Homo sapiens: one gene and its partners. The protein of the gene in region 1 purifies or fractionates together with the protein of each later gene. This does not show direct contact. Each region holds a gene or a part of one and is shown in the gene's direction. Other genes may lie near its edges. The genes, in order: NEK2, TMOD3, DTD1, ANAPC1, PPP1R12A, CAPZA2 and ANAPC7.

What was found.
Region 2: the proteins of NEK2 (region 1) and TMOD3 purify together in Homo sapiens (affinity purification with mass spectrometry, with the first as the bait; one large-scale study listed by BioGRID). This does not show direct contact.
Region 3: the proteins of NEK2 (region 1) and DTD1 purify together in Homo sapiens (affinity purification with mass spectrometry; 2 studies listed by BioGRID and IntAct, with this or other methods). This does not show direct contact.
Region 4: the proteins of NEK2 (region 1) and ANAPC1 purify together in Homo sapiens (affinity purification with mass spectrometry; 3 studies listed by BioGRID and IntAct, with this or other methods). This does not show direct contact.
Region 5: the proteins of NEK2 (region 1) and PPP1R12A purify together in Homo sapiens (affinity purification with mass spectrometry, with the first as the bait; one large-scale study listed by BioGRID). This does not show direct contact.
Region 6: the proteins of NEK2 (region 1) and CAPZA2 purify together in Homo sapiens (affinity purification with mass spectrometry, with the first as the bait; one large-scale study listed by BioGRID). This does not show direct contact.
Region 7: the proteins of NEK2 (region 1) and ANAPC7 purify together in Homo sapiens (affinity purification with mass spectrometry; 3 studies listed by BioGRID and IntAct, with this or other methods). This does not show direct contact.

The regions. Positions count from the first base shown.
Region 1 is NC_000001.11:211,665,622-211,669,121, reverse strand, and holds part of NEK2 (serine/threonine-protein kinase Nek2), read left to right. Parts: coding exon 1-9; intron 10-1,890; coding exon 1,891-2,016; coding exon of another isoform or gene 2,017-2,060; exon of another isoform or gene 2,061-2,705; intron 2,706-3,500. UniProt on the Homo sapiens protein: Protein kinase which is involved in the control of centrosome separation and bipolar spindle formation in mitotic cells and chromatin condensation in meiotic cells.
Region 2 is NC_000015.10:51,832,653-51,836,152, forward strand, and holds part of TMOD3 (tropomodulin-3), read left to right. Parts: intron 1-3,500. UniProt on the Homo sapiens protein: Blocks the elongation and depolymerization of the actin filaments at the pointed end. The Tmod/TM complex contributes to the formation of the short actin protofilament, which in turn defines the geometry of the membrane skeleton.
Region 3 is NC_000020.11:18,594,554-18,598,053, forward strand, and holds part of DTD1 (D-aminoacyl-tRNA deacylase 1), read left to right. Parts: intron 1-1,452; coding exon 1,453-1,688; intron 1,689-3,500. UniProt on the Homo sapiens protein: Possible ATPase involved in DNA replication, may facilitate loading of CDC45 onto pre-replication complexes. An aminoacyl-tRNA editing enzyme that deacylates mischarged D-aminoacyl-tRNAs.
Region 4 is NC_000002.12:111,874,194-111,877,693, reverse strand, and holds part of ANAPC1 (anaphase-promoting complex subunit 1), read left to right. Parts: intron 1-3,500. UniProt on the Homo sapiens protein: Component of the anaphase promoting complex/cyclosome (APC/C), a cell cycle-regulated E3 ubiquitin ligase that controls progression through mitosis and the G1 phase of the cell cycle.
Region 5 is NC_000012.12:79,925,098-79,928,597, reverse strand, and holds part of PPP1R12A (protein phosphatase 1 regulatory subunit 12A), read left to right. Parts: intron 1-3,500. UniProt on the Homo sapiens protein: Key regulator of protein phosphatase 1C (PPP1C). Mediates binding to myosin. As part of the PPP1C complex, involved in dephosphorylation of PLK1. Capable of inhibiting HIF1AN-dependent suppression of HIF1A activity.
Region 6 is NC_000007.14:116,900,587-116,904,086, forward strand, and holds part of CAPZA2 (F-actin-capping protein subunit alpha-2), read left to right. Parts: intron 1-2,731; exon of another isoform or gene 2,732-2,857; intron 2,858-3,500. UniProt on the Homo sapiens protein: F-actin-capping proteins bind in a Ca(2+)-independent manner to the fast growing ends of actin filaments (barbed end) thereby blocking the exchange of subunits at these ends.
Region 7 is NC_000012.12:110,379,709-110,383,208, reverse strand, and holds part of ANAPC7 (anaphase-promoting complex subunit 7), read left to right. Parts: intron 1-248; coding exon 249-366; intron 367-1,260; coding exon 1,261-1,457; intron 1,458-3,500. UniProt on the Homo sapiens protein: Component of the anaphase promoting complex/cyclosome (APC/C), a cell cycle-regulated E3 ubiquitin ligase that controls progression through mitosis and the G1 phase of the cell cycle.

The DNA.
Region 1 (3,500 bases):
GATTGGAGCGTAAGTCTGAATGGGGGTCAAAGCAAAGGAGAACTACCAAGTGGGTTATTTTGATGTGTCTGAATATCTCTTTGAGCAGAATATTTTATACATACAGATCTTATTAGAAGCTTTTGAAAAATACTTGAGAAACCAAAATATGTATTTTAGACTTTTTAATAATCAGGCTTGCTGGCACCTTCATGTTGGACATCTTTCTCTGAGATCAGTTGCTAGTTATATATTATTGGGCCTTAACTGTGATGGCCCTAATACGATAGCCTTGTATTTTACTCTAGAGTTACTTTTTTCTTTTTCGTCTCTACTGTGAATACCCTAATGTTTTCCCACTGTAAAGGAAGGTCTTAAAATTGCTGCTTTCCATAATAAAAAACCATGACTTTTGTCTTTTGAAATGGCCACTCCAACAGAATTCCAGGTCTAAAACCCTACAGTATGTAGATGAGATATGTTCAGGCAATTCTTTTCTTTTTTTTTAACTTTTTATTTTTGAAAATGAGATGGGGTCTCACTATATTACCCAGGCTGGTCTTGAACTCCTGAGCTCAAGTGATCCTCCCATCTTACCTCCCAAAGTGCTGGGATTATAGGTGTGACCTACCACACCTGGTCTGTTCAGGCAGTTCAATAGAGAATCTAGATACAAGATATTTTAAGTCTATAAATAATACTCTGGTGGGTATTAACATTGACTTATGAGTATTAACTGATTAGATGCTAATTTAGTTTTGATATTGAAAGTGTGTCTACTCCACCAAGATGAGAGCTACTCGCAAGCATTTAGGGTTATGCAAGGTAGCTACAGAGTGAGGTTCTTCATTTTAACATCAGGAGACGAGAGATGGGGTCGTATTTGTGACCTGTCACCCTCATGACTCACCTGATTTTACTTCTGCAGCTTTATGCCCAATCCAGGCTTTAAATAATGAAATATTGTATAGTCCTGTGAGATATGCTTACTGTATAGGTACAACCTATACTTACTTGGAAACCTCTGTAAAAAATAAGAAAGCTTTTTCTTATAACTTTCCCCAGTGTTTCATAATTTCTTTTCTTTTTTTTTTTTGAGATGGAATTTCACTCTTGTTGCCCAGGCTGAAGTGCAGTGGCACCATCTTGGTTCATTGCAACCTCTACCTCCCGGGTTCAAGCAATTCTCCTGCCTCAGCCTCCTGAGTAGCTGGGATTACAGGCGCCTGCCACCATGCCTGGCTAATTTTTGATTTTTTAGTAGAGATGGGGTTTTGCCATGTTGACCTGGCTGGTCTTGAACTCCTGACATCAGGTGATCCACCTGCCTCGGCCTCCCAAAGTGTTGGGATTACAGGCGTGAGCCACTGTGACCAGCCATAATTTCATATAGCAACTGAAATCTGAATACTTTCTGAATTTGGGGCCATGAATAAATAGTAACATTTGTTATTAATACTAATCCTATGAACTACCACCTAACTGAATTGTGTTTTTTTTCTTTTGTTTGGGTGTGGTCATTCAACCAGAAGAAGGAGATTTTTGTACTGTGAGGCCAGATCATGCCCTGAAAATTAGCTGTTGCTTATCTTCAGTGAAGAGCAGAGATAGCTTTAGTTTTTTGTTTTCCCAAATGAGTTACTCCCACAAAAGATGACCAAAGGTTGAAGCTAACTTTGTATTTGTTTAAACAAGTCCTTTCAAGAAAATCTAAGATAACATACAGCCTACTAAAACACTCAATTAAAAACTAACATAATCAGGTTGACTGAGGCATAGTGAGAATCCTTTCCCCAAACATTGCTTATCAGTATCAGGCATGCTAGTAGTGATAAGATTGCCAAATGTAAATTGTTTTTTAGTCAAGGTCAGTTGTTAATTTTTTTTTCTTTGTCCATTCTCTTTTTAAAGAGAAAGAACAGGAGCTTTGTGTTCGTGAGAGACTAGCAGAGGACAAACTGGCTAGAGCAGAAAATCTGTTGAAGAACTACAGCTTGCTAAAGGAACGGAAGTTCCTGTCTCTGGCAAGTAATCCAGGTATGAGAATCAACTTGGTCAACAGAAGCTGGTGCTACAAATGAAGAAATGTGCACCAGTGTTGCTCCCAAAGTGGCTTAGGTAGCCCTTTTCATTTACAAATCTCAAATTTTAAGATGGATTTCATTGAATATATGCATTTCAATGGAAACAAAATTCTGTTATAGCAATGATTTATTTCCTGGGTTCATAGACCTGAGGCAATGAGTCATAGAATTTCATGTTTGATTTTCTTTACCTTATCAAACTACATGTTTAGTAATTGATACTTATTTTTATTATCATTATTTATTTTTTTATTTTTTTTGAGATGGAGTCTCACTCTGTAGCCCAGGCTGGAGTGCAGTGGCACAATCTCGGCTCACTGCAAGCTCTGCCTCCCGGGTTCACGCCATTCTTCTGCCTCAGCCTCCCAAGTAGCTGGGACTACAGACACCCGCCACCAAGCCCGGCTAATTTTTGTATTTTTAGTAGAGACGGGGTTTCACCGTGTTAGCCAGGATGGTCTCGATTTCCTGACCTCGTGATCCGCCTGCCTCGGCCTCCCAATGTGCTGGGATTACAGGCATGAGACACCGTGCCCAGCCGATACTTATTTTTAAAAATTAGGGCATTTACAAAACTATTGTATGTTTCAGATTTCAGAGAGATAAACTGCATTTCAAGTAAAAATAAACATTTTAATATTGCCATGCCTCATTTTTCATAGAAAGCATGGCTTAAAAGGCATGATAAGCCACCTGCAGAATAGGCTGTCACGTTTGGATCTTTGCTAACACCCTTTCAAGTTGAAAGACATATTTGTTGAAATTTGATTGTTTAATATCTACATATGTTCTCTGCATTTCCTTCTTTATTTAAAGTCTGGTATATAGATATTCAGCTTTCTCAGGGCCCTGCCTTTGTGTGGCATTGTCCCTTCACTCTGCCGCACTGAGATGTGGTTATCGTATATACCAGTGAACCATTGTCTAACATTCTCCATTTTATAGAAACCCTCAATCTAATTTAATCGACTCTTTAAGATTATGTAAAATGCAAACTGTGAAACATCTTTTTGCTTGATTTATGACACAAACTAACTGTTAAAAGTTGTTGGTTTCAAAAATCGAGCATCTGAATTTTCAATAAAATTTAGAGTTTTTATAACTCCCTTATTCCATGTAGGACAGCATATATGAAAGCTATTATTCCCATCTTTAATAAATTGAGATGTAGTGTGATCAATTTAGTGAGCATTGGCAGCATTTTGTAAATGGAACAGACAAAAAACCCTACTTAAGTTAGATTGATGATCACAATAACTTTGTAGTGAATAAGTGATGGAAAGAAATGAAACTACTGATAGAAGTAAATGAAACAAGGATTATATGAAACTTTGGCTTCATCTCTGTTAAAATACCTTCTTTTTTCCCAATATTGCAGTCTACCATTTCAATATTATAAAAATATTTATTCTGGCTTTTCATAGATTCCACACTGTC
Region 2 (3,500 bases), on another chromosome or scaffold:
AAGACCCTGTCTCAAAAACTAAAACAAAAGAGAAAATCAATTATATCTGAGCAATATCACAGGGAGGATGAGAGGCTTTGCGGATAAAAGTATACCTGGATAGAGGGAGGGAGAAAGATAAAGAGGAGGATCCAGTAAACAGTAGAGGAAAAAAAGGCTTTTAGTAAGGTTTTCTGGTGTCAGTCTGATGTATACTGATATTTAGGCTGTGTTGTAGCTGGCAAACTACTCTTCACACTTTTCAGTTGCTCTTTAATATGCATGAGCTCTCTCGATTAGAGTAGATGAGGAGGGCATTATTCTCTAGGCCGTGTGGCTAAAGCGCTATCATCCCTTGGTCATTGATAGTCCTTGCTGACATTTGATTTACATGCAGTTTTATGTCAGATCCTTTAAAATCACAAATATATGGAGAGAAAAATGGTATAGACAATAGAATATTCTACTGGGCCTATAACTGGTCCATTAAGTGCTTATTTAAATTGTAAACAATCAAATTTAATTTGGTGTTTATAAAAAATTATGTATGTGAACATACATTCTGTTATCTATATGTGTCTGTAATCCATTAGCTTATTTACAATGATCAAAGAATAGAAGTGTGAATAAATCAGAATGGCACATGATTGAAAATGCTGTGTAACTGAAGATGCATTTGTGTAGTCTTGAATTTCATTTGAAACAAAATTGTTAGTCTGTATCTTGAAGCACATTGCTACTTTGTATTTTTATTGATGTATAATTAACATTCAATAAAATGCACATAATATCCAGTTCAAGGAGTTCTGACAATTGTATACACTGTAACTTCTACCAAAATCAGATAGAAAACATTTTTTTTAAGTCACCCTAGAAAGTTCCCTCACCCACCTTCCTCCAAAGGCAATCACTTCCTGACTCCATAGATTTCTGACACTACAGAGATTTTTTGACTGGTCTTGGACTTCACATAAATGGAATCATACAGCATGTGCTTTTTTTGTGTTTGGCTTCTTTCATGTAAGAAAGATTCATCTATGTTGTTGGCAAGTATCAGTGGTTTGTCCTTTTAAGTTGTTGAATAGTATTCCATTGTATGAATGTACCCCAATTTATATTTTCTCCTTGATGGATATTTGGAATAAGATTGTTATGAACATACTTTTACAAGTTTCTTGATAAATACCTAGGAGCAGAGTTACTGAGTCATAGGGTATGTGTATGTTTAACTTTATTAAAAATCTGCCAAACAGTTCTCCAAAGTGGTTTATACTGAGTTCTACTTGCTCCGTATTTTTAGTGTTGCCAATGTTTAGTATTGTCAGCCTTTTCAATTTTAGTCACACTACAGGATGTATGGTTGTACCTCATTATGGTTTTAATTTACATTTTTCTGATGATTAAGAATGTTGAGTGCTTTATCATATGTTAATTGGCTATGCAGTATCTTTTTTTGTGAATTGTTTGTTCAAGTCTTACCTAGTCTTTCATTGGGTCATTCATCTTTTTATTGTTTGTAGGAGCTCTTTATATATTCAAGGTACAAGTTCTTTGTCACATATAGAGATAGATGTGTTGACAGTTTTTTTTTATACAGTCTGTCCCTTGTCTACTTTCTCAATGATATTGTGATGAGCAGAAATTTTTAATTTTTATAAAGTCTGTTTTATCAATTTTTTGTATTATGGCTAGTGTTTTTTGTCCTGACCAATAAATTTTTACCAGTGCCCAGGATTGCAAAGAAAGCTTTTTCTTCTAGAAACTTTATTTTTCTAAGTTTTTCATTTGAGTCTGTGATTGATCTCAAAGTAATTATTATTGTGTTATGATATAAGATAGGAGTTTGGGTTCATTTTCCACCTATATAGATATCTAGTTGTTCCAGCAACATAGGTTTAAGAAAAACTTCCCTTTCTCGGCCAGGCACAGTGGCTCACACCTGTAATCCCAGCGCTTTGGGAGACCAAGGCAGGCAGATCATTTGAGCCCAGGAGTTTGAGACCAGTCTGGGCAACATGACAAAACCACATTTCTACTAAAAATACAAAAATTAGCCGGAAGTACTGGCATGCACCTATAATCCCAGCTACTTGGGGGGCTGAGGCAGGAGGATCATCTGAGGGAGGTGGAGGCTACAGTGAGTTGTTATCATGCCACTGCACTCCAGCCTGAGGGCCAGAGTAAGACCCTGTCTCAAGACAAAACAGAACACATCTCTTTTTTGTTTGTTTTTCTCCATTAGATTGACTTGGCATCTTAGCGTGTCAGCTGAGCTACTTTGCATTTTAGTTGTGCTTATATTGTCAGTTTCTTAAGCACGGACCCTGACCTTAAAAATTAAATGTTTATGCTCCTCTTCCAGATTGGGACTTGACTGAGATTGATCCAGGGCTAGTTACCATGTATTTCCTGATGGAAGAATGTTAAGTATGAATTTGAATTTTAAATGGCTTTTCTGTGGGTCGAGTTAATGGAGACAACCTCATTTTAGAAGCAATTGCATCTTCCTTATAAAATAGGCAGATGTTTAGAATGAAGGAGATGTAAGCAAGGAAAGATCACCTAGGACTCCAACATAGCAAGCTATAGGGAGCTTAATATTTCTTGTTTATTGGCTTGATCTAAATAGATGCAATTATATATAAGCCATGTGTTTTAGTTTCCATCTTTTTCTGTTTTGTTTTGTTTTGAGACAAGGTCTCAATTTGTCACCCAGTTTGGAGTGCAGTAGTGTGATCTTGGCTCACTGCAGCCTCGACCTCCTGGGCTCAAGCAGTCCGTCAGCCTCAGCCTCTCAAGTATTAATAGCTGGGACTACAGGCATGCACCACCATAACTGGCTAATTTTTGTATGTTTAGTAGAGATGGAGTTTCATCATGTTTCCCAGGCTGTCCTTGAACTCCTGAGCTCAAGCAAACTGCTCACCTTGGCATCCCAAAGTGCTGGGATTACAGGCGTGAGCCACCACACCCAGCCTTAGTTTCCATGTTTCTACTCCATTGTCTATTCCAATCCTTTGTGATGCAATTTCTGAATTTGCCTTGGAACAATTTTTAGGGAGACAGTTTGGTTATTTTTTTCTTCTAAGTTTATTTGCTGATAATACACTAAGTTTTAAAAAGAATGTCACCCCAACCTCATTATTCTTATGTAGCTATTTTTACTTTTCCTCATTTCTTTCCAGGCCTGATTCATTCTCATACGTATTTTTATATGATTGTAATCATAGTGTGCATATTGTTTTTTGTTCAGAGATTGAGTTGTAACTAGTGAATGCTGTCTCCCTTAGGTAGATCACCCTTGTTAGTAAAGACAAAGATTAGAGATGGAGAAAAGACAACTGGGGACTTACCAGTGAGGAGTCTTGAATCCTAAAGCTTAACTAAAATAGAAGCAGAAAAAAGCTAAGATTTTCAAAGACAGGATTACCTTTCTGTGGAAATGCAGGACAACTTTGGTTTCCTTATTCATTCCTTCCCCCTTTCTCTAACATATAACAGCTTTAGTGAGATATAATTCG
Region 3 (3,500 bases), on another chromosome or scaffold:
ACCACGGGGCACATTTACTTTAGATGCTGGATCCATTTATTCTGCCCCTTGGTGCTCAGAGCTTGGGTATAACCCTGCCCAACTGATTCTTTTGTGTTAGATTGAAAATCAGACTTGAAACTGAATTCCTGCTAAGGTGTTGATGATGGATAACTATCATTCAATACTATTTCAGTGATGGTGGTATTTTAGTAGCTGTCCTCTGGATACTCAAAGAAGTGGTAGAGTGGTGTAATGGCTAAAAACTGAGGCTGTGGGTTTGAATGTCTTTATGGCTCTGACATACTACAGAGCTAATACTTAGCCTGGTGCTTAAGAGATGTGATTCAACATAAGACAAATCTTGGCTGTGGAGAGGGGGTAATGAGTAGCACCTGTCCCTGAGGGTGCCCATATTAAGAGTCAGTTAATTAGTATTTATAGAGTCTTTGAAACTGTCATCTACTTAACATCATCCAGAAGGGTGGCTCTCAAATGGTGAGATTTCAGCTTTCATGCTGGTGGTTCTCTGCTGTGCTTCTCAAATCTGACCCTATAGATGTCACCTGGTCAACTTTCTTGCCATGGTGACTATCCTTCTTCACATGTATAGGGAAAGCCCCTCTGGGGCTTAAGGAGCTTGTGACATAGTTTTCAAGGTGTCTTTCTCCAGATCTTTTTGCATATTTGCAATAACCATGATTTTTCTCTCAGTGTATTTGCTGAATTGTTCTTTCTTTTTTTTTTCTTTTGAGACAGAGTCTCCCTCTGTCACCCAGGCTGGAGTGCAGTGGTGCAATCTTAGCTTACTGCAATCTCTGCCTCCCTGGTTCAAGCGATTTTTGTGCCTAAGCCTCCTGAGTAGCTGGGATTAAAGGCGCCCGCCACCATGCCTGGCTAACTTTTGTAGTTTTAGTAGTAGAGATGGGGTTTCTCTATGTTGGCTAGGCTGGTCTTGAACTCCTGAACTCAGGTGATCCACCCACTGTGGCCTCCCAAAGTACTGGGATTTCAGGCATGAGCCACCGTTCTCAGCCGAATTGTTCATTTTGAGTAGCTCCAAGAAGGGGTTTAAAAATGGATGTCATTTATCCTAACATGATGAATTCGTTCATGAAAAATTACAATTGGACCCATGTTTTGACATATCCCCGACCTAAAGGAGCAGAGAATAGGTGGTTGTCATCTTAGCCCCAGTTCTCACCAGTAGCTGCTATGAACTGGAGCGACTGGCAAAAAAGAAGCAATCTCAAAACAACCGTGTGAGGTAGAACTGTTATTATTCTGTATCGCAGCTGAGGACACTGAAGCACAGGGTGGATAAGTGACTTGCCTGAGGTCATGCCTCCTGTCAGGGATGGAGTCATCATTATGTCCTTATTTGACCGGAAGCTGGTGACATTTTTGGGGTATGGAGTGTGTTGGGGGGCTTGTGATCTCTCAGGTAGCTCTCACTGCTCTTTTTCCCCTTAGGGTCCGAAAGATTCTAAACCTGCGTGTATTTGAGGATGAGAGTGGGAAGCACTGGTCGAAGAGTGTGATGGACAAACAGTACGAGATTCTGTGTGTCAGCCAGTTTACCCTCCAGTGTGTCCTGAAGGGAAACAAGCCTGATTTCCACCTAGCAATGCCCACGGAGCAGGCAGAGGGCTTCTACAACAGCTTCCTGGAGCAGCTGCGTAAAACATACAGGCCGGAGCTTATCAAAGGTAAGCAGGAGAGCCACATCCAGGAACGGGTCTTTGGGACACTCCTGGATGGAGAGAAAAAAGAAGCTGCAACTGCAGCATCTCCTTTTCTGGAAAGTCATTGTTTATGCTTGTTACTTACTTAGAACCACATACTAGCTGCTGCTATTGCTGCTGTTGTACTTAACACATGTCCTCAGAATGCTTCTGCTGGCATTTGCCCTCCTCCCTTCTTCTGTTCACATTTTGAAAATGTTTGGGAACCCAGAGGTGTGGCTAATACAGTGGTATTTCTTTGATTGTTTAGCTTAGCCCTGTCCAATAGAAGTATAGTGCAAGCCTCAAATGTGAGCCAAATATGTCATTTTAAGTTCTTGTAGCCATATTTAAAAAAATAAAAAGAAATAGGTGAAATTAATTTAAAAAATATATTTTATTTAACTGAATATATTCAAAATATGATTTTACTATGTAGTCGTTATAAACAATGATGAGGTAGTTTACATTCTCTTTTTTTTTTTTCTAAATAAAGGCTTTATTTGATTAGAGCAGTTTTAGGTTCACAGTAAAATTGAGAGGATGGTACAGAGATATTCCATATATCTCTGCCCCCGCATGCATAGGCTCACTCATTATCAACATCCACCACTAGAGTGGTGCATTTGTTACAACTGATGAACCTAAGTTCATTGTTGGATTATAACTGTTGTTCATGGCACATCATTATCACCCACAGTCTCCTGTTGGCACTAGGGTTCACTCTAATATTCTCTGGGTTTGGGCAAATTTATAATGACATGTGTCTACCATTACAGTATCATACAGAATATTTTTTATTTTATTTTTATGATTTTGTTTCTTTTTCTGTTCTGGCTTCTCAATAAGCTTTTTTGACCTAGTCTCATAGACTCTCTCTTTTAGTAGATGAGAGAAAGTGTGTGTGTGTGTGTGTGTGTGTGTGTGTGTGTGTGTGTGTGTGTATAGAGAGAAGGAGCTATAGATGGTGTTTTTGTTCTCCTAATGGTTATTTCTAAGTTTTTAACATTCATGAATAGTTACAAAAATTTCTATCAAAATTTATAAGGATCTTAGTATATTTGAACATCCCCTTTTCCTTTCTAGTTCCACTTTTTAAAATGACTTTATTAAGATATAATACACATACTGTACAATTCACCTATTTAAAGTGTACAAGTCAATTTTTTTAGTTAAGAGTTGTGCAACCATTGCCACAATCTAATTTTATAACACTTTTGTCCCACTTAAAAGAAATCCTGTACTCATCAACAGTACTAGCCTACTCCCACTCTCTTCTTTGTTGCCCCAGTCCTAGGCAGCCATTAATCTACTTTCCGTCTCTTTAGATTTGTCTATTCTGAACATTTTATGTAAATGGAATTATATAATGTGTGGTTTTGTTCCTGGCTTCTTTCACTTAGCATAATGTTTTCAAGGTTCATCCATGTTGCCACTTTTCTTTTCATCATAATCATAATCACTTTTAATCATAATTTATTTATAATCTGTAACTGGCTGTATTTGATAATATATTTTATCAATTTCTGTGGTCACCAACCTGTCTTGCTTCCTTCTTTGGGCTCTTCTTTCTGAAGTACATTCTATGATATATCAGTTGTTTACTAAGAATGTGTTAGTGGAACATAGTCATTGTAGGTTTTAAAATGTTTTTATTTTGCCTTAATTCTTTATGATTGCTTAGCTGGGCATGGAATCCTAGCTTGACAGTTCTTTTCTCCCAACATTTTGTCTTTTTTTGTAAAAAAATTATTAGTATACTTTAAGTTCTGGGGTACATGTGCAGAACGTGCAGTT
Region 4 (3,500 bases), on another chromosome or scaffold:
TCCCGCCTCACCCTCCCGAGTAGCTGGGACTGCAGTTGCCCGCCACCACACCCGGCTAATTTTGTTTTTATATTTTTAGTAGAGCTGGGGTTTCACTGTGTTAGCCAGGATGGTCTCGATCTCCTGACCTTGTGATCTACCCACCCACCTCGGCCTCCCAAAGTGCTGGGATTACAGGCGTGAGCCATCATGCCCAGCCAAGCTTGATAATTATTAAAACTGGCTGATGGGGATTCATTATCCTATTCTGTTTACTTTGTATTTATTTGAAATTTTCCATTATAAAAAGTTTATAGTCTACATTCTGGTTTCTTTAAAAAAGTCACGGAGAAAGAAAAAAAGGTGGGGACTGTTCTACATTGAAAGAGACTAAAGAGACATCACCAAATGCAGTATTTTTTGATCCTTGTTAAATGAACTTTGATTGAGTCCTGGTTTTCTAGCTAAAAAGATATTTTTGGGGAAAATTTGGGAAAGTTGAAAATTACTGGCCAGTAGCTGATGTTAGAGAAGTATTATTTTTTTCTCAGGGACGATGATTTTATGGTTTTATAGGAGAACATCTTTATTTTTAGAAAAGGCATGGTGAAGTATTTAGGGGTGAAATGTCATGATGTGTGTGCAATTTATTTTTAAACAGTCAGCATTCCCATTCCGAAAATCCCATATGTACACAAATGCACACACACAAACAAATATGGCAAAATTTTCATGATTGTTGGATATAGGTGAAATATGTTTGCTGCATTATTTCAACTTTTCTTACTGAAAATTTTTATAACAAAAAGTTGGAGGAAGAACTAATGCATTTATTGTAGTTGAATTAGGGTTGACGAGGTTTTGGAGGCTTTGACTAATGTTAAGTTTCATTTTTGTAAATGCTGAAATCTTTGTATCTGGATACTGCTTCCTCCCACTCCTCCCGCCTACCGTTAACTATTTCCTGATGAGTACTGTATTCTATTTATTGGAAAGGATAAACTGAATCATTATTCCAACATTTGAGGGCATATGTGAAAGCATTTGTGTCCTGGAGTGTTGAAGCCAGTGATCTTTTTGATGGTAAATTTTTTCCCATATAATTCATATAGTTAGTATAGATGTGAAAAGTGCATTTGATGATATCCAAGTAGTTCTTTGCTTCTATATCTTCATCTTAATTTCTCCAAGAACAGTTGCCTATTTACTAGATTCTATGGAAGTGCAGTTAGATATATTATCTCCTTTATCTTAAGATCACTTGTAAGTGTAATTGTAAGATTTGGAATTTCAGTCTTTTGATCTGGAAAATATATTGTTACTTAATCTTCTTGCTAATATGGAGAAAGATAATTTTCTATTTTGTTTATGAAATAATATCAGGTATATGTGACTCAGATTTTATCTGTTCATTGTTTTACCTATCCTGCAAGTATTTTTTTTTTGGTTGTTCTTTTTATTTTTTCATTTATTCTTTTTGTTTTTTAATAGAGATGGGGGTCTCACTATGTTGTCCAGGCTGGTCTTGAACCCCTGGGCTCTAGTGATCCTCCTGGCTTGGCCTCCTAAAGTGTTGAGATTACAGGCGTGAGCCACTGTGCCTGGTCTTCTGCAAGTATTTAGTCTCACTCTGTTTCAGCCATTATGCTGGGGCTACAAAGGTGAATGTAGTTTCTGCCATTGAAGGACTCATAGCCTAGAAAGGAGAACAAACAGATCACCTGAAATGCTGTATTCTGAATGCTGTATAATAACTACCTGTCCACAGAGTGATGAGAGCCCAAAGGACTGAGTGCCAAAGGGAGGGTTTTTCAAAGAAGATGCTATTTGTGTTATAAAATGGTGGCAGAAGGGCATTCTAGGCAGAGGAAATCACAGCAAAAAGAATTATGGAAAAAGATGACTTTTTAAACTTCAGAATGGCTGTACACGAAGTGTGGGTGTGGAGAGATGCAAGTGGATGCTGGCAGTATACAGACCAAAGGGCCTTGTATATAAACCAAGGAATTTGGATTTTAAACTGTGTGCTGAAGGGAGCCTGCCAAGGATTTTAAAATGGAAGCGATCAATTTTGTGTTTTGAGAAGAGATTGCTTTGTTAGCAATATATATATAGGATTGACTGGAGAGGAGGGAGACTGTTGTCAGGGGCACTATTTTGTGACTGTTCAGGTAAAAGATTGGTGCCTTGGCAAAGAAGGGGTGATAAAGCAGAGGGAGATGTGGAAGGGGTTAGTGATCTCTTAGATATCAGGGATAAAAGAGATGTTAAAATATTTACTTTTAGAGGCTGAGAGGATGGGATTTCATCAAAGGAAGTTGAGACTGTAATCGGTGCATTGTAGATTTTGGACATTTCAGGTTGGAGCACAGCTCTCATGCATGGTTTTCTTCCTGAATTTTCATTTCTTAACCATTAAAATCTCCCACAACTCAACAATAAAACAAACTACCCAATTAAAAAATTGGGCAGAAGGACTTAAATGGACATTTTTCTAAAGATGCACACATGGTCAGTAAGCACATGAAAAGATGCTCAGCTTCGCTAATCATTAGGCAAATGCAGATTACAACCACAATGAGATACCACTTTACTAGGTTGGCTGTTATTAAAGAAACATAACAAATGTTGGTGAGGATGTCCAGAAATTGGAACTCCTGTGCATTGCTGATGGGAATGTAACATAGCTGCTGTGGAAAAGTTTGGCGATTTCTCAAAAAGTTACACGTGTAGCCAGGCATGGTGGTGCATGCCTGTACTCCCAAGCTGTTCAGGAGACTGAGGCAGGGGGGTCATGTGAACCCAGGAGTTCTAGGCTGCTGCGAGCTAGAATCATGCCTTGCATTGCAGTTTGGGTGACAGAGTGAGACCCCATCTCTTGAAAGAAAAGTTATACTTAGAATTACCATTATGATCCAGCAGTTCCAGTTCTAGGTATATGCACAATTGAATTGAGAACAGGGATTCACAGATACTTGTACACCAGTGTTTTCAGCAGCATTATTTATGATAGCCAAAAGGTAGAAACAACCCATGTCCATTGACAGATGAATGGATAAACAAATGTGGTATATGCTAACAGTGGAATATTGTTTAGCTTTAAAAAGGGATAAAATTCTGATACATGTCATAACATGGATGAACCTTGAAAACATTATGTTAAGTGAAATAAAATAGATATAAAAGGACAAATGTACAGTTTCACTTACATGAGATACCTAGCACAGGCCCTTTCATAGGGAAAGTGGAATAGAGGTTACCAGAGCTCAGGGCATTGGGAAATGGGGAGTATTGTTTAATGGGCACGGAGTTTCTGTTTGAGATGAGGAAAAAGTTCTGGAAATGTGCAGTATTGTACAAGCTCACAAATTGTACTAAGCTCGTCAATTTAATGTTAATGCTACTGAATTGTCTACTTAAAAATTGTTAAAATGTTAATTTTCATATTGTGTGTATTTGACCACAGTTTAAAAAAAAACACAAAATGCTGTTAAATAATAAGTGATTGCCAGGTATGTCAG
Region 5 (3,500 bases), on another chromosome or scaffold:
AAATTTGTGTCTAAAAGAATGTGCAGTGTAAAATATTTCTCTGCATAGTTTTCTTTTTAGAAAAGCTGTAACACTTTATGCTCATGCCTTTCAAAAGTTTTTATTGAAATCATCCTAAATCCATTTTTAAAAACCTACCTAAACAAACAAATAAAACCCTCCCAACCCCAAACTGGCCCCTCACTTCCTACAAATAAGTGGGCAACCCTAGCCATATATGGGGTGTGCTGGTAGGGCACCAGTGCCCACACTGCTGCTGTTCTAATGCTTTTTCTGTAGTTGCTGCCTCTGTGCTTCCTGGCAACACTTTTGTGGTCTGACTTTGAGGTGTCATAACCAAGACCATCTTTCATGTGCCTCAGCTACAGTATGATTGCAAGCTGTGACTGAGCATTTTCTATAGCCAGGTAGAAACACTGGATGGAATAGAGGAAGTGTTTTTCATCATCCATTTGTTATTACCACATTTAAAAATTACAGTTCACATAAGAAAAGTGTTTTAAAAATCTTATTAGATGATTTTTAAAAGAAAACTATTTAAAAACCTTTTAATAGGGGGAGGCATAAAACGTTGTTTTGTTACTACCATAACATGTTACTTCTTGACACTATATGAAGTTGCTATTTTCATTGCCTCTGCCTGCAAAAAATTGCCATCTTTTACTCCACCCTTCTTTTGAAAGTTTGTGGGGCTCCACAATAAGGTTGAGAAGATGATGAGGTATTGGCATTTTGGTATACCTCTTTGAAAGGTTGAAGAACTCCAACAATTATAAGTTTATTCTCAGTTGGAGTCAGATATGTAGTAGCCATGACTTAATCAGTGTTTTATTGAGGAGCAGTGCTTTTCCAAACAATAGTTTAATTTTCACAACATGCTTTTTCACTTGCTCAAAGTTAACAAGAAAATAAATGGCAGAGCTGGAATTCTTATGCAGGTCTGTTTGATGCCGAAACTCAAACTTTACCCTATGCCAGGTATCTTCTTTGAAGTCTGAAGAAGAAAATATTCTTAAATCTTTTCATCATTATGGTGGTGTTTAGTAATTGGAGGTTTCTCTGTAAATTAGCTGAAAATCAAGTGAAACACACATATAATTTTTTTCTTCATCCACATTTGTTTTAGCTAGCCCATACTTTTAAGACCTTTCTATGGTAATTGAAGTGCAGTAGTACTGTATCTAAATTAATCTCAGAATTCGAAATTGTCCTAAATTTTAGGAAGTGCCAAGATTATTTTTGACTTACCATTATGTGCAGAATATATCAGCAGCAACAAGAAACACTCCTTTTTTCAGGACATAGAATTTAATTTTTAACTACCTTTATTTTTCTTTACCCTAATAGCAATTTATATCGTTTCAGTTGTTGGGTGTGTGTGTGGGTGTGGTGTGTGTATGTGTGTTTTGAGACAGGGTGACAGACTCTGTCACCATGGCTGGAGTGCAGTGGCATGAACATAGTTCACTGTAGCCTTCCTGGGCTCAAGTGATCCTCCCACCTCAGCCTCCCGATCAGCTGGGAATACAGGCATGTGCCACCACTTCCAGCTAATTTTTTTTTTTCTTTGACAGAGTCTCCCCGTGTTGCCCAAGCTAGTCTCAAACTTCTGGGCCCAAGTGATCCTCCCACCTCAGCCTCCCAAAGTGCTGGGATTACAGGCGTGAGCCACTGCACTTAGCCTGTTTTAGTTTTTTTTAATCATTTACAGTAAATTTTTTATACATACGTACATGTACATATTTGATTCTTTTTAGAGACAAATTGTAGGAAACTTCATACCATGGATACTGGGGGTGGGGGGGAAGAAGTCCCTTATATACCCTTAAGGTAGGGACTTTGATTCTTTTTTTCTTTAAATCTCCTTTTGTATCGGCATTTTGTTTTAGTAGGTACACAATAAATATTTAATGATTAAAAAAAATTGGACACAATGTAAACTAATATTTTGAAGAGCAGAATTCATAGAATATTAAATAATTGGGTAAGTGTAACACACTGACAAACTTTTAAAATGTCCTAATAAAAAAGCTTATATCAACCACTTACTTTTATAATACTTACAATGTAAAGGTAGCCATTATTACAATCAAAACATTTATTAGGTGGCTGGGTATGGTGGCTCACGCCTGTAGTCCTAGCACTTTGGGAGGCCTAGGCAGGCGGATCACCTGAGCTCAGGAATTTGAGATCAACCTGGCCAACATGGCAAAACCCCATCTCTACTAAAAATACAAAATAAAAATTAGCCAGGCATGGTGGCGCATGCCTGTAATCCCAGCTACTCAGGAGGCTGAGGCACGAGAATCGCCTGAACCCAAGAGGCAGAGGTTGGAGTGAACTGAGATCATGCCTCTTCACTCCAGCCTGGGCGACAGAGCGAGATTCTGTCTTAAAGAAAAAAATTATTGGGATGTTAGATTTATTTTTGAAATGAGATCTATTACTGATTATCAATAGACGCTTCAGTTTATGTAACTTAGTTTAAAAATTCTTTAAACAAATCCTTGAGTGTTCATTTAGAAAAGTAATCTCTAGGCTGGATGCAGTGGCTCACACCTGTAATCCCAGCACTTTGAGAAGCCAAGGCAAGAGACTTGATCCCAGAAGTTCAAGACCAGCCTGGGCAATATAGGGAGACGGTGTCTCTACCAATAAAGAGAAAAGAAAAGAAAGAAAAAGAAAAGAAATCTCTAGCATGGTAATATTAGAAATAATGCATATTTTCTGTTATTTTACTGATACTTTTTTTTTCCAAATAACATTTTTACTATGGCTCCCTCTATGTCAGTATTTTCTGACCTTATTAGTGTTTTGGTTGTTTATCTTTGCATTGTTATGCTGGCTAACCATAAAAAGACACGCTTGAGTTCTGTGTTACTGCCCTAAGTGTGCTTGCTGCTCAACTCAAATGCTCTTTCATGGGAGGAGACATTCCACATTGTCATGTGTTGTATAGGCATTTCTGAAATGACATTCAGTAGAAACCATGGAAAGAAGTGAAAGCATTCCTCAGCTGTCACTTTTTTAGTAGTCTATTTAAATGTTATGTATATTAAGTGAGATATTCTGCAGAGAGAGCTTCACTTAATAAAAAGCTTTACTTTAACTTGATGATTTAACTCACATTTGAGCTGAAATTACTATTTTCTTAGTTTAACATGACCTCTAACAATAAAATCATAAGATTGTACAAAGCTCATGTCATTTTCTTGAATACTGCATAGTGCAGAGGAGAATACATTTTGTGAGATGTCACTTGGCACCCTCTTAAAGATTAATAACCATGTGGGAAAGTATATTTTCATGGACTGTTACACACACACACACACACACGTACACGTATGCACTCAACCTTTACTTGTAATAAACATCCCAAATTATATATATTTTATTAGCCTTCAAAATTGTTTTAGATGGTTATAAACTTATTTGAATATTTATATTCTTGCATGGAACACTTCTAGAGCTTTTCTGTTGGAGTTTCAGCTCCAGAACAT
Region 6 (3,500 bases), on another chromosome or scaffold:
GAATAAGCTTCATCAAAAAAAGGCATACGATTATGAAGAAAATAGTGACGGTCTTCTCAAGCAACAAAAGCAAAAACTGACACATGGGATATAATTAAAGAGCTTCTGCACAGCAAAGGATACTATCAACAGAGTAAACAGACAACCTACAGAATGGGAGACAAATTTTGCAAATTATGCCTCTGACAAAGGTTTAAATCCAGCATCTATAAAGAACTTAAATTTAAAAGATAAAAACAAGCGCATTAAAAAGTGGGCAAAGGATATGAACAGACACTTTTCCAAAGCAGACATACTTGAGGCCAAACAAGCATATGAGAAAAAAGATCACCATCACTGATAATTAGAAAAATGCAAATCAGAACCACAATGAGATACCATTTCAAACCAATCAGAATGGCTATTATTAGAAAGTCAAAAAATAACAGATGCTGGTGAGGTTACGGAGCAAAAGGAATGCTTATACACTGTTGGTGGGAGTGTATATTCAACTATTATAGAAGACAGTGTGGCGATTCCTCAGAGATCTAAAAACGGAATTACCATTTGACCCAGCAATCCCATTACTGGTTATATACCCAAAGGAACAGAAATCATTCTATTATAAAGAAACATGCTCACATATGTTCATTACAGCACTATTCACAATAGCAAAGACGTGGAATCAATCTAAATATCAGTGATGATAGACTAGGTGAAGAAAATGTGGCATATATACACCATAGAATACTATGCAGCCGTGAAAAAGAACAAGCTTTATGTCCTTTGCAAGAACATGGATGGAGCTGAAGGCCATTATTCTTAGCAGACTAATAAAATATCTTAGCAGAAAATCAAATATCACATGTTCTCACTTATTAGTGGGAGATAATGATGAGAACACATGACACATAGAGGGGAACAAAACACACTGGGACCTATCAGAGGATGAAGGGTGGGAGGAGGGAGAGGATCAGGAAAAATAACTAATGGGTACTAGGCTTAATACCTGGGTGATGAAATAATCTGTGCAACACCTGCATGACACAAGTTTACCTATATAATAAACCTGCACATGTACCCCTGAACTGTTAAGAAAGAAAATAGTGATACTCTTCTTGAAACACATAAAACAGGATCTGACCAATGGAAAGGTGCTCTACATTCCATTCTTAGATAGAAAATTAAATTATTTTAAAAGTAATGTATGGATTTGATGAAATTTGAATTAGAATCCTGATCAGTTTTTTTTTAATTGGTCAATATTTTCATAAAGTTTATGTGGAAAAAAAAACATGCTTGAAATAACGAAGAAATGTGTGTGTGTGTGTGTGTGTGTGTGTGTGTATGTGTGTATATATATATATGTATATATTTATGAAAAAACCATTAAGCACAATGAGGGAGAATTGCCTTACCAGATAGTACAAGTTGTTTTACAGCCAATGTTAAGTCAATGTGGTGGTGTATGGAGTAGACAAAAAATCATTAGAGCAGCATGGAGAACCAGAATTTAGTCTCAGAATATATGAAAAATTTTATACAGATATTGGCATAACTGGTTTCTATAAGAAGAAAATTAAGTTGGACCTCTGTCACATACAGTATACAGAAATAGATTTCAGGTGGTTTTAAAATGTGAAAAGTGGCTAACATTTTAGAAGAAAATCTGAGTCTACATGTGCAATACAGGGCTAGGGAGACCATCTTAAATAACACTGGATACCCAGGAAGTATAAAAGATGGACATTTTACTATAAATGTTTTTAACTGTAGAATGAAGCCTATCTTAAAGAACTCTTATAAATTGATAAGAAAAAGACACCAGATAAAAATATTTTATTATATTTGCTCACAGAAGAGCAAATGACCCACAAATGTGAAAAGCCATACTTAGTTTTATCAGTAGTCAGTGGAATTAAAATGATATATTTTCTACCATCAGACTAAAAAAAGAGCTATAGTGCCTATCATTGGTGGTAATATGGATGGAAACATACTCTCATATATGTGTAGAAATTTGGATTGTCACAGGAGTATATATTAAAAATTATAATACCTGATGTCCCTACCACCACTGCTTGGGAATTTATTCAATAGAAATAAAAGGATCCAATGGAAATAAAAACATCAGTATGTTAAAATATATGTACAGCAATACTCATTTCACCTTTTTTGTTGTTGTTATTGAGTCAGGGTCCTGCTCTGTCACCCAGGCTGGAGTGCAGTGACACAATCACAGCTCGCTGCAGCCTCAATCTCCTGGGCTGAGTAGCTGGGACTACAGGCACATGCCACCACGACTGACTAATTTTAAAAAATTTTTTTGTAGAGATGAGGTCTTACTATGTTGCCCGGGCTGGTCTCAACCTCCTGAGCTGAAGCTATCCTGCCCCCTTGGCCTCCCAAAGCACTAGGATTACAGGCATGAGCTACCACACCCAGTCTTATTTCACCATTTTTAATGTGTTCCTCCTTTCCCCGAAAAAGGAAACAGCCCAGAAATAAAGAGATGGCACATCAGTAGTGGATTGGCAGACTAAATTATGTTATAATCACGTCATGGGACATTATGCAGCCATTTAAAAGAATGGTGAGAAATATATCACTTGACTTTGAGGGATTTCCATAGGATGTTTATATTGAAAGAAGCCAGATGCAGAGAAGAGTGTGTGTGTGTGTGTGTGTGTGTGTGTGTGTGTGTGTACGTACACACACACATTTTCATTGCATTCTTATAAAATAATGACCAGTCGCTTCTCGGCCTTTTGGCTAAGATCAAGTGTAGTAAAATAATGACCAAAAAATTCTGTGTGTATGCAAGTATAGACATGTGTATATCTTTATCTGTAAGATTTTATGACTATGAAAAAAAATTTAGAAAGGTATATCCTGTGTTGTTAGCATGATATATATCAGAGGGATGGATAAGTCCCGACATAGCTAAGGAGTCAAAGACTGGAAGAATTACAAGAGAAGGAAAAGGGGAAATTTTTTAAATAAAGCACAAAATATCAGATTATACATTATGCATTGTGGATGTATTATTTAAATTTATGGAAATGAAGTATGTTTTTAAATACTTGGAAGTCAATTAAAATCAGTTGTCAATGTAGTTTTTAAGAAGCAAGAAACAGATACGTCAAAGTAGGTAAGACTGTGGGCCCAGAGGCAAGGTGGGGGACACACCAAAGAGGATTTGCACCAGACCAAAGCCATTCAGGTAACCACCCTGATTGGAGGTTCTCACAAGTTCTGTAGTTTTGAGGAACTGGAGTCTGATACCAGACATTGTAAACTGTTAGAGTTCTCAAAGCAGAAAACCCACCAAACCCACTTGAACAGTGTTTTTAGAGGTTGCATTTTTTTTCACCAGTAGCTGGAAGTTATATTGGGAGAAAATCTGATCTGCACTGGATGAGAGTAATGTCATTGTCTGTATAGTCAACTCATTTGAAGTATTAATAGTTGTACCATATGGTTAAAATATATGCTTGGAGTAGGATTGTTTTATAGTTTTA
Region 7 (3,500 bases), on another chromosome or scaffold:
CCTCGGCTTCTTAAAGTGCTGGAATTACAGGTGTGAGCCACTGTGCCCAACCTGGGTTTTGCATTTTAATAGTCACTTTGTAGGAAACTGGAAATAGTAGTTGGAGGAGCCTGTGATGGTGGAAAGGGCTTAGCCCCTGCAGGAGCTGGGGCCTCAGCATGGGGTCTGATGTTGGGTGCTACTCCTGTATGTGGGACCCCTGCTTCTCTTCTTAAAACACCTCTTCTCACTATGTCCTTCTCTTCTAGGAATGGATGTATATGGCTACCTACTGGCACGAGAAGGGCGGCTAGAGGATGTTGAGAACCTTGGATGCCGCCTTTTCAATATCTCTGATCAGCATGCAGAACCGTGGGTGGTTTCTGGGTATGATTATGCATTCTCTTTTCTCCCCAGTTGTCAGTAGATTAAGAGATAATGGTTGCTCTTGAAGAGAATATAAATTGAAAGCACAGGTTTAAGAGGTAATCACCTGGACAGGCATGGTGGCTCATGCCTGTAATCTCAACACTTTGGGAGACTGAGACAGGTGGATTGCTTGAACCCAGGAGGCAGAGGTTGCAGTGAGCCAAGATCGTGCCACTGCACTCCAGGTGGGCGGCAGAGTGAGATTTTGTCTCAAAAATAAATAAATAAAAATAAAAAGAGGTAATTACTTGAGGCCAGAAATTTGAGACCAGCATGGGCAATGTAGCAAGACCCTGTCTCTATAAATATATATATATATATATATATATATATATATATTTTTTTTTTTTTTTTTTTTTAAAAGGATAATCAGCCCTGGATTCAAATAATAGTTTATGACTCTGGATGCATTATTTACCTATCTAGGTCTGTATTCTCATTTGGAAAATGGGCTAATAACCTCTCCTTCTAGGGTTAAGCATTAACTGAGTTGGTGAATGCATTGTGCTTAGTACTGAGCCATCAGTGATGGGGCCAGAAGATGCTCCTTTGTTTATTAACCTGGCTTTACAAATTCTCTGAATGCCTCTCTGCTAATAACTAATATCCAGATCATAGGTTCTTTTTCATAATTTTTCTCTTCCATATCAAGATTTCCCCTTAAAAATAAATAGTGGATTTTTTGGTTTGTTTTGCTTTTCTACTAATATCTTAGGTTAAAACTATAAGTGTGGTTTGGAATAAGGATTATGTTCAGGGCCTTCAATATGATTTTTGGATCAACTTTCTTTGTAGTCTTCTCTTGGATAACTTCTGGGGTTTTTGTGTTTTTTTTTTTTTTTTTTTCTCCAGCTGTCACAGCTTCTATAGCAAACGCTACTCCCGGGCCCTCTATTTAGGAGCCAAGGCCATTCAGCTGAACAGTAATAGTGTTCAAGCTCTGCTACTTAAGGGAGCAGCACTTAGGAACATGGGCAGAGTCCAAGAAGCAATAATCCACTTTCGGGAGGCCATACGGCTCGCACCTTGTCGCTTAGATTGTTATGAAGGTAAGAAAGAAAACATAGGTGAATGGTGTGAATCCGTGGGTGTGGCAGCAGCCCTCAGATGGAAGGTTTCATTAGGCCAGCACTTCCCAAACTCTGTTAGAATAATCTGGGGAAGCTGGCCGGACGTGGTGGCTCACACCTGTAATCTCAGCACTTTGGGAGGCCGAGACGGGCAGATCATGAGGTCAAGAGATTGAGACCATCCTGGCCAACGTGGTGAAACCCCGTCTCTACTAAAAATACAAAAATTAGCTGGGCATGGTGGCTCACACCTGTAGTCCCAGCTACTTGGGAGGCTGAAGCAGGATAATCACTTGAACCTGGGAGGCGGAGGTTGCAGTGAGCCAAGATTGCGCCACTGCACTCCAGCCTGGCGACAGAGCAAGACTCCATCTATTAAAACAACAACAACAACAACAAAAAAACATCATCCGGGGAAGCTTTTCAATATCCTGACGTTGGGTCTCTCCAGTGTAGATGGAAATACATGGAATTGGGAATAGACATCGATATTTTTGGAGGTCCCCAGGGGTTACCAATGTGCAGACAGGTTTGGGAACCACTGCATTAGGCATTTTACATTTATTTAGGGCTTTCACTGGATTTGTCACCCCATACTTTCATAATCCATTTTTTCTGATTTTTTTTCTGGTTTTTGGTGAGGGTATAGTTGGGATGGGGTTTTTTTTTTTTGTCCTCCCACCGCTCGCCCCCATCCAGTGTGGCGTACTCATTAATATGAATCTCTCTGTGTCAGACACCATGCAAGATCACTTAGTTTGCCTATTTTTTTTCTCTTACTCCTCTTTTTTTTGAGACAGAGTCTCGCTTTGTTGCCCAGGCTGGAGTGCAGTGGCATGATCTCGGCTCACTGCAGGCTCCACCTCCCGGGTTAATGCCATTCTCCTGCCTCAGCCTCCCCAGTAGCTAGGATTACACCTGGCTAATTTTTTGTATTTTTAGTAGAGACAGTGTTTCACCGTGCTAGCCAGGATGGTCTCAATCTTCTGACCTCGTGATCCGCCCGCCTCGGCCTCCCAAAGTGCTAGGATTACAGGCGTGAGCCACCGTGCCCGGGTCCTGTTTTTTTTTTTTTTTTTTGAGACAGAGTCTCGCCCTGTCACCCAGGCTGGAGTGCAGTGGCATGATCTTGGCTCATTGCAACCTCCACCTTCCGGGTTCAAACCATTCTCCTGCCTCAGCCTCCCAAGTAGCTGGGATTATAGGCGCCCACCACCACACCCAGCTAATTTTTGTATTTTTTAGTGAGATGGAGTTTCACCATGTTGGCCAGGCTGGTCTCGAACTCCTGACCTCGTGAGCTGCCTGCCTTGGCCTCCCAAAGTTCTGGGATTACAGGCATGAGCCACCACAACCGGCCTATTTTTTTTATTTTTATTTGAGATAGAGTCTCACTCTGTCACCCAGGCTGGAGTGCAGTGGTGCAATCTCAGCTCACTGCAACCTCCACTTGCCGGGTTTAAGTGATTCTCCTGCTTCAGCCTCCTGAGTAGCTGGGATTACAGGCATACACCACCACACCCAGCTCATTTTTGTATTTTTAGTAGAGATGGGGTTTCGCCATGTTAGCCAGGCTGGTCCCGAACTCCTGGGCTTAAGTGATCTGCCCAATTCAGCCTCCTAAAGTGCTGGGATTACAGACGTGAACCACTGTACATGGCCTGTTAGGCCTATTCTTTTTCGTGGCCATCTTACCTTGGGCCAGAGTTAGTACTCGTGGGATAACTCCACATCCATATGATAGTGTTGGCTGTGGGAATGGGTCTGTTCATTGTGACCTCCAGAGTGGGCACAATCAGGGTCCAACTTTGTTTTGTTATGTAATATTTTAAGTTCATGTGAATTGACCCTGGGAGTTCAAAGGAGCTGTGCCAGTTTCAGCAACGTTTGGTGACTCAGTCACAGACATTAAAATAGATCTTACAAGATGCAGTTCCTCCAAAACATATTTTTATAAGCATTTAAAAATAAACCTAGGAGTCTAGGAGTGATTTGCTCTTAACAGGAAGATGAGTTCAAATT